Linked DNA regions of Homo sapiens. Each later gene encodes a partner of the first gene's protein in a complex. Each region holds a gene or a part of one and is shown on either strand. Other genes may lie near its edges. The genes, in order: ITGB6 and ITGAV.

Evidence for each region.
Region 2: the proteins of ITGB6 (region 1) and ITGAV are in contact, whole or in part, in a crystal structure (PDB 9CZA), measured with the Homo sapiens proteins. Residues at the interface, in NP_000879.2 of Homo sapiens: Ser183, Pro184, Phe185, Lys187, Thr188, Thr189, Pro190, Ile236, Asp237, Thr238, Pro239, Asp273, Ser274, His275, Phe276, Gly277, Met278, Asp279, Lys281, Leu282, Ala283, Gly284, Val286, Pro288, Glu308, Thr311, Ile312, Gly313, Gln314, Ile316; in NP_002201.2 of Homo sapiens: Tyr48, Phe51, Lys72, Trp123, Leu141, His143, Gln150, Glu151, Arg152, Pro154, Asp178, Ala179, Phe184, Gln186, Phe189, Pro204, Tyr208, Trp209, Asp249, Tyr251, Tyr254, Pro274, Arg275, Arg278, Thr279, Met302, Ala303, Tyr305, Phe308, Pro328.

What each region holds. Positions count from the first base shown.
Region 1 is NC_000002.12:160,197,222-160,204,665, reverse strand, and holds the start of ITGB6 (integrin beta-6 isoform a precursor), read left to right. Parts: upstream 1-4,393; 5' UTR 4,394-4,602; coding exon 4,603-4,663; intron 4,664-5,407; coding exon 5,408-5,487; intron 5,488-7,444. UniProt on the Homo sapiens protein: Integrin alpha-V:beta-6 (ITGAV:ITGB6) is a receptor for fibronectin and cytotactin. It recognizes the sequence R-G-D in its ligands. Internalization of integrin alpha-V/beta-6 via clathrin-mediated endocytosis promotes carcinoma cell invasion.
Region 2 is NC_000002.12:186,676,833-186,681,480, forward strand, and holds the end of ITGAV (integrin alpha-V isoform 1 preproprotein), read left to right. Parts: coding exon 1-103; intron 104-364; coding exon 365-460; 3' UTR 461-4,069; downstream 4,070-4,648.

The DNA.
Region 1 (7,444 bases):
AGCCAGCAGTCCCAAGGTGCAAACAGAGTGGATAGATATTCTTTCATAACATTATTATACTTTATATTGTCTCAAATTCCCCCCTGCCTTTTCTTTACGTTGCATTTTAAGCTTTTTCTCAGCTTTCGGCACAACCCAAGCAGGGAACACATTTTCCCTTTCCTAATTGTATTATTTACCTTCCTAAACCATTCTTTCATTTACTCATCTGTTTACTCAATATCCATGAAGTACCTGCTTTGTAACTGGTGAAATACTAGACAATGAAGACTTAAAATTCACCCATATTCTCAATATAAACATTAATTGACTACTTACAAAGTGCCAGGCATTGTGTTACTTGCTAGGAATAGAAAGATTCCTGAGACACAGTCGCTGTCTGATACATAGCAAGAATTGAATAAATATTTGTTGAGTAAAGGCAACTATTTTGACAATTACAAGCAGAGCAAAAATGGCTATTCTGGGGAATGTCCACAGGAGGGGAGGCCTAGAGAAACCAAAAAGTGTTTCCTGCAGACACTAATGTTTACACTGAGACCTGGAGGGCAAGCTGAATTAGCCAAGTGAGAGGCATGAGAGGCAACCCAAGGCCTGCAGGAAGAACAAATGGTTTGTGTGAAGGCCTGAAAATTAGGGAGGGTGTGCACTGGAGGGGCAGCCATGGGGGACAGAGAATAAATCAATCAGTGTGATTATGATTCTAGGACTGAGATGGAAGTCTTTATGTGGGATGGCACAAGTCCATTTAAATACATGGTCAAATTGTGGTTTTAGAGTTCTAGGACCTTGTTGCTGCCTGCATCTGGTTGTCAGAGGGACATGAGGATGATCTAGAAGGGGTATGTACCACTTCCACTCGTATTCTGTTGGCAAGAGCTGGTTGTTGGGATTTTCTTAGCTGCAAAACAGGCCAGGAGAGGTAGTCTAACTGTGTTCTCAGGAAGGAGAGATTGTTGGTGGCAGCTAGAACCATGGAGAGTTTCCAGGGATTGGCATATCCAGAGCTGGGCAGCCACCCCGATCCAGCTCCTCTAGAGTGCCTGCTAGCGGCTGCCAGGGAGGTCTATGGGCAGACAGGCAACTCAAGACCTGGGGAAACCTCTGGAGCCCAGGGCAGCACTTGTCAGTCCAAGGCAGTTTTGTAGGATGTAAGATCTTTTCTTCCAAAGTGAGGTTTGAAAGTTGCATGTTCAGTCTCCAGACAAAGGTGGATTTTGTGTGGGAAATTGTCAAGAACTATGAAGGGCCTGGGCTTTTACCTGACTTGCAAGCTGACAAGTTAGCTTGTCATGGATTTGTGGGTACTGATGGAGACATGCGATGCCTGCATCACAGAAAAAGAACTTTTTAATTATTTTTTTTTTTTAAGAACTTTTTAATTCACAGCAATTGCAGTGGTCAGAGTGTCAGCACATTCTTTCACAGTTCCCCAATACCATTTCCCACAAGATGACACAAAAGAAAGAGGTGACTCCTGCACATGTAGTAAGATGTGTTATAAGAGAAGAACTTTGAGTTTAGGGAAACTGAACCTTTTATAATGGGCAGTAAACAGGCCTACTCTTTGTTCTGCAGGTTGACACTGTCTCTATCTTCCAAAGCTGTAAGCAATTTTTCCTTTTCCCTAAAGAGGGACACTGTCTGTATTTTCAAAGGCCGTTCACTTTATAAACATCCTGGAAAAGAGAGTCTAGAAAAAAGGCAGCCAGGTCCTCTGCTTGTAAGATGTGCAGAAATGTGAGAGACACTTGAATTTGTCTTCCAACAAAGACAGGTTCCTCTTTAGCAAGATGAAGTGTTCTTTAGATAGAAGCTTCCTTTACTAAATCCTTCTCCTCTTGATCTACAGATATCTAGAGGCCCCAGGGCTCAGTCCTCAGAGCTCTTCCCTATATACATTCGCTTCCTGGAGGGATCTCATTCAGCCACATATCTCTGAACACCATCAGCCTCATATCTTTAAACCCATGCTGATAATCCCAAATTTACAGTTTGCTCTTTGACATTGCCCACATTTCCAGACCTAGATATCAAACCTGCCTATGTGGCATCTTCACTTGGTTATCTTCTAGCCATCTCAAACTTACCATGTTCTTGATCCTCATCCTCCACATGAAACCTGATTCTTCCTCAATGTAATCCCTCTCAGTAAAATGTATCACTCAGCCAGTACAATGTATCTATGCCAGACAGAAACCTCTTTCTTTCATGTTCACATCCAATCTATCAGCACAGTCCAGTTTCAAAATAGATCTTGAATCTGATCACCCCCTCCTCCTGCACCACAAACATCCTAGTCCCAGCCACGATTATCTCTGTTCTTGACAGAGACATGCATTCCTCTCTTGCCCCATTCACCTTCCAATCTTGCCGCATACATTTTCACTTCCTCAGCAGCCAGTGTGGTTCTTCTAAAATGTAAATTAAATAGTATTATTTCTCTACTTTCAACTTTCCAGTGATACACAAGGTATAGAATAAAATTCAAGGTCAAGACTACATATGATCTGACCTCTGCCCTCAAATCTGATTACCCTCTCTCTCTCCCTTCTTGTATTCCACTTGCCCTTGAAAACACCTGCCATTGGGCTGTCTCAGGCCTTCATAGTTAGCTGTGTTGTCAAAGTCATCTAGGGCTCTCTCAGATGCCAGTTGGTCAGGGAAACCCTCCCTGACTATTCTAAAGAAAATCACACACTCCCTTGCCCCTCTTTCCTTTTACCCAGACTTATGATTCATAGCCCTGGGCACTGCCTGATTTTAGAAGTCTATCTCCCTGCACTGCCCTCCAGCCTAGAATATATGCTGCATGGATCAAAAACTTGGTTGTGTTCACTGATGTAGCCTCTGCTTCAAAAATAATATTTGACAGAAAGTAAATGCCCAAGAAGTACTTGTTGAATGAATGAATAATGAATGAATAATAGTTAATACTGGATTTTTAAAATGACAATAACAGAGACACAAACAATTTGTGGCTCGATCTTTCTTCTTCAAGTTAAATCAACTAATTTTATATAAATTTTCTCTCAAAATGCATATCTTCCAATTCTTCAATAATTCTGGATTGTTACCGCAAAATTCTTGCCATGTTTTTCCAGCTTCTTGGATATGATGGAGTTCAAAATTGAACATAACATAGGCTTCTGAGAAAAGCCTAGGTAGTCTATAATTAGTTTCTCTCTTTCTTTGGTTTTTTTTTTTTAATTATTTTATTTTAGTTTTTATTTTTGTGGGTATATAGTCGGTGTATATATTTATGGGATACATGAGATGTTTTGGTACAGGCATGCAATGTGTAATAAACACCTCATGGAAAGTGGGGTATCCATCCCCTCAAGCATTTCTCCTTTGTGTTACAAACAACCCATTTATAGTCTTTTAGTTATTTTTAAATGTAGAATTAAATTATTATTGACCATAGTCCGTTTCCCTCTGTTTACAGGTTTCACATGCTTACCCAGGAATGCTCCTTGAAAAGATAATCTCCTCAGACATAAGCCTGGCCACAGAAAAGTCTCTCTAAGGTCAGCAGTTTCTAGAGTGACGAAGTGAGAATTCGATTCTTATCTGTTCACAGACTCTACAAATCTCAAAACACCTTCCTGAAGAACACCCTGGGGGAAAAATACAAAAAACCTCATGGATTTAGCCATAGATCATATATATTTTGAATTGTCACTCTTTCACTCAACAAATAAATATCTCCTATGTGCCAAATCATGAGCTAGAGGTTGGAACAGCACATTGCATAGAGAACTTGGTCCCTAGCCTGAGGGATTCAGAATCTTGGGCACCATCATTTCTGTTTTCATCATTGTTGTCATCAGTGTCTTTTGAGACATTCTTATTTTGATCTCCTTTGATTTTTATATATTATGATTATTTCCAATATAATTTTAAAATAAGAATTTTATACTTATGGAAAAATATATTTCATCTAATTTGAAAAAATAAGGAAACAGTGCTTTGCTTTCCCTAGCCTTCCTTCTCATTTACTGTAAGATAATAATTTTTCTTTTTCAGGGTTCGTTTCAATTTTTTGCAAAGGATTTAGCAATGAAACACTAAAATCTCAGGCATTTTCATTAAGCTCATTTTTTACTTTCCTCATATATAGCCTATATGCTTTATTTAATCTTTATTCTTTACATTAAATTAAAATTATTTTTAAAATGACTATATTTCTATTGCTGTTGTGACTTTTCATTGATCAATATTTCACTAAAGATATTAACTTTCTCTAGGATGCAGAGAGACTCATAGAACTTACACCAAAATTTCTACTGAATGAATTTCCCCACCTTCTTGGTGATTGTACACCTGCCTTCCTTATAAGGAGAACAAGGAAGTAAATCATGTTGAAGTTGCTTTTAAACACAGCTTTTCTGCTTTACCTGTCCAGGTAGCCTCTGTTTTCATTTCAGTCTTAATGAAAACTTTCTAACTTATATCTCAAGTTTCTTTTCAAAGCAGTGTAAGTAGTATTTAAAATGTTATACTTCAAGAAAGAAAGACTTTAACGATATTCAGCGTTGGTCTTGTAACGCTGAAGGTAATTCATTTTTTAATCGGTCTGCACAGCAAGAACTGAAACGAATGGGGATTGAACTGCTTTGCCTGTTCTTTCTATTTCTAGGAAGGAATGATCACGTACAAGGTAAGACCTGCGTTCTCTGATATATTACTTTCGTGGTATGCTTGACAAACCTGTCATTTGGTTCAGAAACTAGATCTGAAGTCATGTTTTATTTGATCTGTTCCATTGCTCTTTTGTGACTGAGTGAACACTTTAACAAATTACAGACAAACACCGGGCAGTTCCCACAGTGAATGCTCTAGGCTTAAGGTAAATAAATACAAAGGTTGCACAGGCATTTTAATGAGGAGAATTAAATAACATTACTGCCCAATGGAACTTAGTGCCAGTATGATAACCATTTTTGAAACTTTTCTATTTTATTCTACCACAAGATCTTCCACTTAGGAGTAATAATCTTGAAAGAGAAAGAGGATTTATTTCAAAAACAGAAATAACTTGTTTAAGAAAGAAGCATTTTTTAATGGTTGCAAGTAATTTTTAAAAATTAAAGTGGCACACATTGGCTAAGAATAATAAATAGGATAATCCTATATTTGTGAACTTTCACATTTTAAGAAAAAAGAGCATGATAATTTTGGCTTATAAGACATACATAATTTTTAATATACATACACATATTTTACATGTGATAGATGTAAAATACAAACTTTTATGTGAATTGCTAACATTTCGAGGACTGATTTTGGATACTAAACTAAACTTTGATGTTGTTTTGTTCAAGTAATGTAAGAGCCATCAGTCTCATAAATGGAATGACTGAAAGTGTACTTAATCCCTGCATCTTGCTGGGTCTAAACCTAGGTGGCTGTGCCCTGGGAGGTGCAGAAACCTGTGAAGACTGCCTGCTTATTGGACCTCAGTGTGCCTGGTGTGCTCAGGAGGTAAAATAAATGACCTCAATGTGTTTTTAAAACCTGTCTGCAGTTAAATTCATGTTAATTTCCTCAGTGATATTTCTGATAGTGACTTGCTTTTTTGTGGAGTTGTATAAGTAAAACAAATCAGGAAAGGAGAAGGTGAGCATTGGTAGATCAAAATGGCATTCATGTGATTACTTTCAAAAACAATTTGTAGAAGGAGTGGATGTCAAATAATTCGGAAAAAAATTTTAACTTGGGATTTTTTTATTTTACCTGGTTCCTTCTTTTATTGTAAAGCCATTTCTACAGGTTACATGTAAAATATGGAGGCTGTCTGGATAATCAGAGTTCATGGAGATGATATTTTCTAAAGTTAAACATACATTTGATGTTCATATTATAGTTGTATTCCCTCTGGGTACCAGGATCCATTCTGAACTACTGCTAGATTCTAAGGGATGTGTTTTAAGTTTGGGGCAAATATTACTGGTCAGATATTATCCAGTTCCTTTAAAAATGGCATTTTCATAAACTCAGTGACTCTGTACCACACCAGTGACAAAGTGCCAAATAGGAACTCCTTATCTGGTCAAACCGAAAACTACATGAAAGCAGTATGAAGATGATTGGGGACTATGTACCAAGCCATCCTAAGACACTAGAGAATGATGTCTAACTGATTCATGGTAAGGAAGAGAGGCATTAGCTTTCTGAATTTTAAAACAAGTCTCTATGCACTGGATCTCATAAAGATAATCTAAACATAAATCAAATCATACGAATACCAAGTGCAGCAAGAGCTGAGTAGCATGCTCAAAGAGCAACAAACCTCGACACCAAACTCAGAACTGGGTTCTACCTGTGGAAACCCAAACTCCGAGTTCAGTGTGTATCCATGAAGTGTGGCCTCACAGACAAGAGAGCACAGACACAGCTCAGTCCCTTACTACGGCCTTGACCAACGCGGCCACAAAAAAAATTCAAGAGAATTATGCTTTTTTTTAGTTCCTGTATCAAAGCAGGATTGAGAATATACAAGAAGGGAAAAAATCACATGTTTTTTGGATATTGACTTCTTGAAGAAGTATTAGTTTCATGCCAGAGAGATACAACAACAAATCAGCCTAGAATTTTCATTTAAATGCATTTTTCAGCATTTACTTAAGAGAGTTTCCTAAGTTGCTGCTGATAACTTTACTTGTGTATAATACTTGGTAGCCAAATTGTTGTCAAATTGTAAAACCAAATTATTCTAAGAGGCCACTCTAATATTAGAAGTAGTTATGAGGATGCCAGTCGAGGCAGTTGGAGCAAAAAGTAAATTAGGCTTCTGCTTAGGGCAGATAGAAAATAGGTCATGTGGTTAACACCACCTCTGATCTTCTGGCAAAGGCTATGAATAGAGGTGATAGCAATGACACTGTGTTGAGAAGGATTCTGAAGCCTTGGCCAGCCACTGTTTCCCTTGGTTACATCATGGGAAGTTACAGTTTGCCATGCCTGGCCTAGAGCTTCAGACACGCACAGGCCTACTGATAGATAACAAATTGTATTCTCAAAATCAATTTCAGAAGAAATCTAACTTTCCTAGTTGATGAAAACAGCAAGAGTGGCTTGGAGTTCTAAGAGGCAAGGAAAATAGTATGAGCATTGGTTTTGTTTTCTCTAAGCATGAAAGTCAATGGGCAACAAGTTCCCCTTTGCATAGTGTCATGCCCACTCTAAAGCAGCCACGCCTATCAGGTAAGACAGGTATTTAATCTATTAGCTCCATCTCCCTGTTTTGGGTGTTTCAGAATTTGAACGGCCACATCTCTGCTGGGAAAGACTACATCTCACTGCCCCTCTGCTATCCTTGTGGGAAACTCCTGTGTCCCACGCAGAAAAGCAGACTTTTTTTTTTTGAGACGGAGTCTTGCTCTGTCGCCCAGGCTAGAGTGCAGTGGCATGATCTGGGCTCACTGCAAGCTCTGCCTCC
Region 2 (4,648 bases), about 26 Mb from region 1:
GGGCATTCAGCCAGCGCCCATGCCTGTGCCTGTGTGGGTGATCATTTTAGCAGTTCTAGCAGGATTGTTGCTACTGGCTGTTTTGGTATTTGTAATGTACAGGGTAAGTAACGGACTTAGAAAGAAGGAGAGAGGGAAAGCAGAAGAAAAGGGAAAGGGAAGAAGGAAAAGAAGAATGAAAAGTAAGGGAAGGAAGAAAGGGACTGTAATGATGATACTTGATGAGCATTACTTATTATATGAGGGAAGATAAATTTTATGAAATACAATTTAAATGTTCTTAGTGGTAATATAGTCACCCAAAAAATACTTTTCGTATTCTACACTGATGTGACAGTAATAATGGTTTTTCTTCAACTGACAGATGGGCTTTTTTAAACGGGTCCGGCCACCTCAAGAAGAACAAGAAAGGGAGCAGCTTCAACCTCATGAAAATGGTGAAGGAAACTCAGAAACTTAACTGCAGTTTTTAAGTTATGCTACATCTTGACCCACTAGAATTAGCAACTTTATTATAGATTTAAACTTTCTTCATGAGGAGTAAAAATCCAAGGCTTTACTGCTGATAGTGCTAATTGGCATTAACCACAAAATGAGAATTATATTTGTCAACCTTCTCCTTATAAATAAGTTCAGACATACATTTAATAACATAGGGTGACTTGTGTTTTTAGGTATTTAAATAATAAAATTTCAAGGGATAGTTTTTATTCAATGTATATAAGACAGGTAGTGCCTGATTTACTACTTTATATAAAATAGTACCTCCTTCAGTTACTGTTTCTGATTTAATGTACGGAACTTTATTTGTTGTTGTTGTTGTTGTTGTTGTTGTTGTTTTAAAGCAGTCCAAATTTGGACCTTAGCAATCATGTCTTTTGTATAGGTACTTAATGTTAATACATATTACACTACAGTTTACTTTTCAGAATACTAAAGACTTTATAACTGCATGAACTTGGATTTTTTTAATCACTCATATGGTAGAATTTTATAAACACATACATGATACCATCCAAATTCTTGCTTTTAATAACAAAGGTACAATATTTTGTTTTAGTATGAAAATCTGGTAGATCCTATTACACTTCTGTTTATATTAAATCCACAATATTTTATTACATTTTTAACTTGTATAAATTTTAGGTCAAATCCTTCAAGCCAACCTATACTAAAAATTAGTTCCATAATCACAAATGGCTCTTTTGTGTAATTGTTTAATTTCACCTGAATATCATAATGCTTAAAGCCATATGGAGTTGGAAATTATTTCCAAAGCATATTTATTCCATTGTTTTAGTCTGGCTATTTACAGTATAAAAAAAGCATTTTTATTAAAATACTGTGTAGTTCTTTGAGATAGTTGCTTATGCATATAGTAAGTATTACATTCTTAGAGTAGAGCAGAGTTTTTAGTTAGTATTAATTTATTTTCCTCCATTCATGTACTTTTCCTTATATTTCCAAAACTGTTACTGAGAATGGGTCAAGATCAGTGAGAAATCTTTACAGTTGACAGGAACCTGGACCCCTTACCCCAACTTTATGAGTAATGCTTGGAATAAAAACTCTTAAGGCAACTCACTGATTTACTTCTAGCAATAGCATGATGTTACAGGAATATTACCTCTGTTTAAGCAAGGTAATGTGTAAAATCAGTCTCGGCTGTCAGAATAACTTCTAAAAGGTATTTTTATAAGCAGTTCAAGTTACTGAAAACCTTTTAAACCTTTCTGAAGTTCGTTAGTATAAATTACTTTTCTAGGATTATTAATAAAAGCCACATAGGTGGCAAGTTGTAGTTTTATATGGCTCTGTAGAGTGGTGAACCTTCTAGAGGAATATATGATTTATTCACAGTTCCTCAAGGCCTGGGGATGATGATCAGTTATACCTATTTTTGTGCAATTACATCATGTTGTACATTAGAAATGGAGAGTTTAATAGCTCTTTAACTGCTGTCCTCATTAGGTAATGATAAATATTTCCCTTAAATAATTGACTATTTTGCTGTGTTTTAAAAATGATTGAAATTTATCTTGCCATATCTCATAATTTCATGCACAAGTTGACTGAGCTAATCTTGAGAATATATTCGTAAAATAGGAGCACATTTAGTTGAGGTATACAAGGTAGGACTCTAGACAAAACCTTCTATTTTAGCTTTAGTGAATTTCAAAAGTAATGGGTCTTGGAGTATAGATTTTTATTAGTAGCTTGAAAGAGCTTAATCATATGCAGTAAGTATTTTTATTACCAATAAATTTAAAATTTTTTAAGAAAAATATTTTTATCCTAGGGCCAAGTGTTGCCTGCCACCAATCAGTAAGTTAGTCTATAACAAATTTTACCCTAACAGTTTTACCACCTAGTAACAGTCATTTCTGAAAATATGTTGGATAGAAAGTCACTCTTTGGCAAAAGTGTTAGAATTTGCTTTTGTGCCATCTATTCCTTTTATGGCATCTATCTTGAAAGTAATCTTGTATTGGAGATTGAAAGATGCTGTAATTTAGAAATTAACATGATATCTTAAATTACCTTTATGAAATATAGTTTTGTATAATAGCATAGATTTTCCTTCAAAAAATGAACATTTATATATCTACAAAAATATGGAGAAGAGTAATTTGAAAGCCTACTTTCTGAAGAAAATGGTGGGATTTTTTTTTATCATGATTAAATATCAAAAAATTGCCCTATGAAAACTTTAAATCTCTAAAACATTTGAAATACTACCATATTTGTGATTTATTGAGAATAAAAATCCATTTTGAAATGTAAAATTTTTATGATCTGATTCAGTTTTAAGAAAACATGAATGAACTAGAAGATATTAAAAACATTTGACATTGGTAAGAAATATTGATACTGATATTGATTTTTATATAGGTATTTATTTCAGAATTGATATTTTGAGAAAAATACATGTGAGTCATTTTTTCTGTTTCTCTTTTCTCTTAACGATTATCACTGTAATTCTGAATCTGAAAGGTAAAACAATTAGTCAAAATATTATTGCCATCATTCTACCTGTGTTATGAAACTACTTATTCATAGTTAATTCTCATTAACACTTACATTTCCATAAAGAAAACTCAAGTATTAATAAAAGAGACTTTACTGGCTTAAGAGGGCTGTGAAAGATTTTTGATAGTGAATCATGACCCTAAGGGAGAGATTTGTGTGATAAAAGTATTGTATATAATAGATCAGCGATTTTTGTAAGGCAAACAGAATTTGTAAGTTGGCAGATCTTCCTAAGTTGCAAAATGTAATGATGAGCTTGGTGGAGAAGAATGAGTCGTTCTTGGAATACCTATGTGCAGCCACTACCCATCTCAATGTCACCTTGTTTGCATTCTTGGATAGCTTGTATATGTAGTAGTTTGATGAATAATTTAAAGAAAAACACCTAAAATTTGAAAAATGATTGTAGGATCAAAAAAGGCAGATGAAATTACTTAATACTCAGTGTTTTGGAGAGTATTCCTTTTAGTTTGTTGGTTGGCTGGTTTGAACGATAGAAATATGCAGCATGCAATATATGCTTATATTTCATTTTAATTTCTGATATATAATGAACTTCTTGGGAGAGGTACTGAATCTTTGATGTTTTTTGTCATTGTTCTCAAGTGCAATATAACAATGTAACCAAATCTAGATAATTTCAAAGTTGTCATTAATTTAGTAAGCCTAATATAAACAAATATTTGTATTATTTTTGTTAGCAGGAAAGAGTGATTAAGTGAGGTTATTTACCCCTAAATGGTCCATTCTGCATTGTATTTCAGGCTGGAAATGAATTATTCTTTACCAGTTTTGAAACACTTTGAAATATCCTAAGGTAACTTGGAAGCTGTGTAGTATATCAAATTAATTTGCTACCTAATAACATAGAAAGTAAATATCTTTGTGGTCACCCACATTGGGTGAGACAGAAAATGAATCTGTTCTAAAATTTGTAATTTGCTAACTTGATTTGAGTTAGTGAAAACTGGTACAGTGTTCTGCTTGATTTACAACATGTAACTTGTGACTGTACAATAAACATAAGCATATGGTACCACTTTTGTGTATGGGGTTTATCCTTTCTGTGACGTGTTTTTGTTTTTTGATTACATGAGCTAGCAATAATGCACTAAAAGGATGACCTCAGAGGTAACTTTCTGTAAAACTTCAAATCTTGAATGTCAGTTATTTGATGAAAAGAAACACAAAAAGAGCAAAATGTACCACATTAAAATTCATCCTTAGAAAGGCAAATATGTATTTGCCTGAAATATAAGAATTATTTTATTTCTAAACAAACATTTCTAAATTCATTATGCTAACCTTTATTATTTTTACATTATCAGATTCCTTTTAAAATGCACATTTACATCTTTTATAATTTTTAATTATAGTGTATATATGTCATTGCATATATGCAGTTGCAATATACATATGCAATTCTAGTATAAAAATACCTATTTTTATAAATGAAAAGTACCAAGAAGAAAATTAAGTGTTGAGATGCTTGGGAAATTATACTGAAGTAGCATAATACACCACCGTAAATTCCTATGGAAATAAGATAGAGTATTGCCAGCATCCACAAGCCCCCTTCTGTCTCTTTCTAATCATATCTCACCCTGCCCTGCAAAAG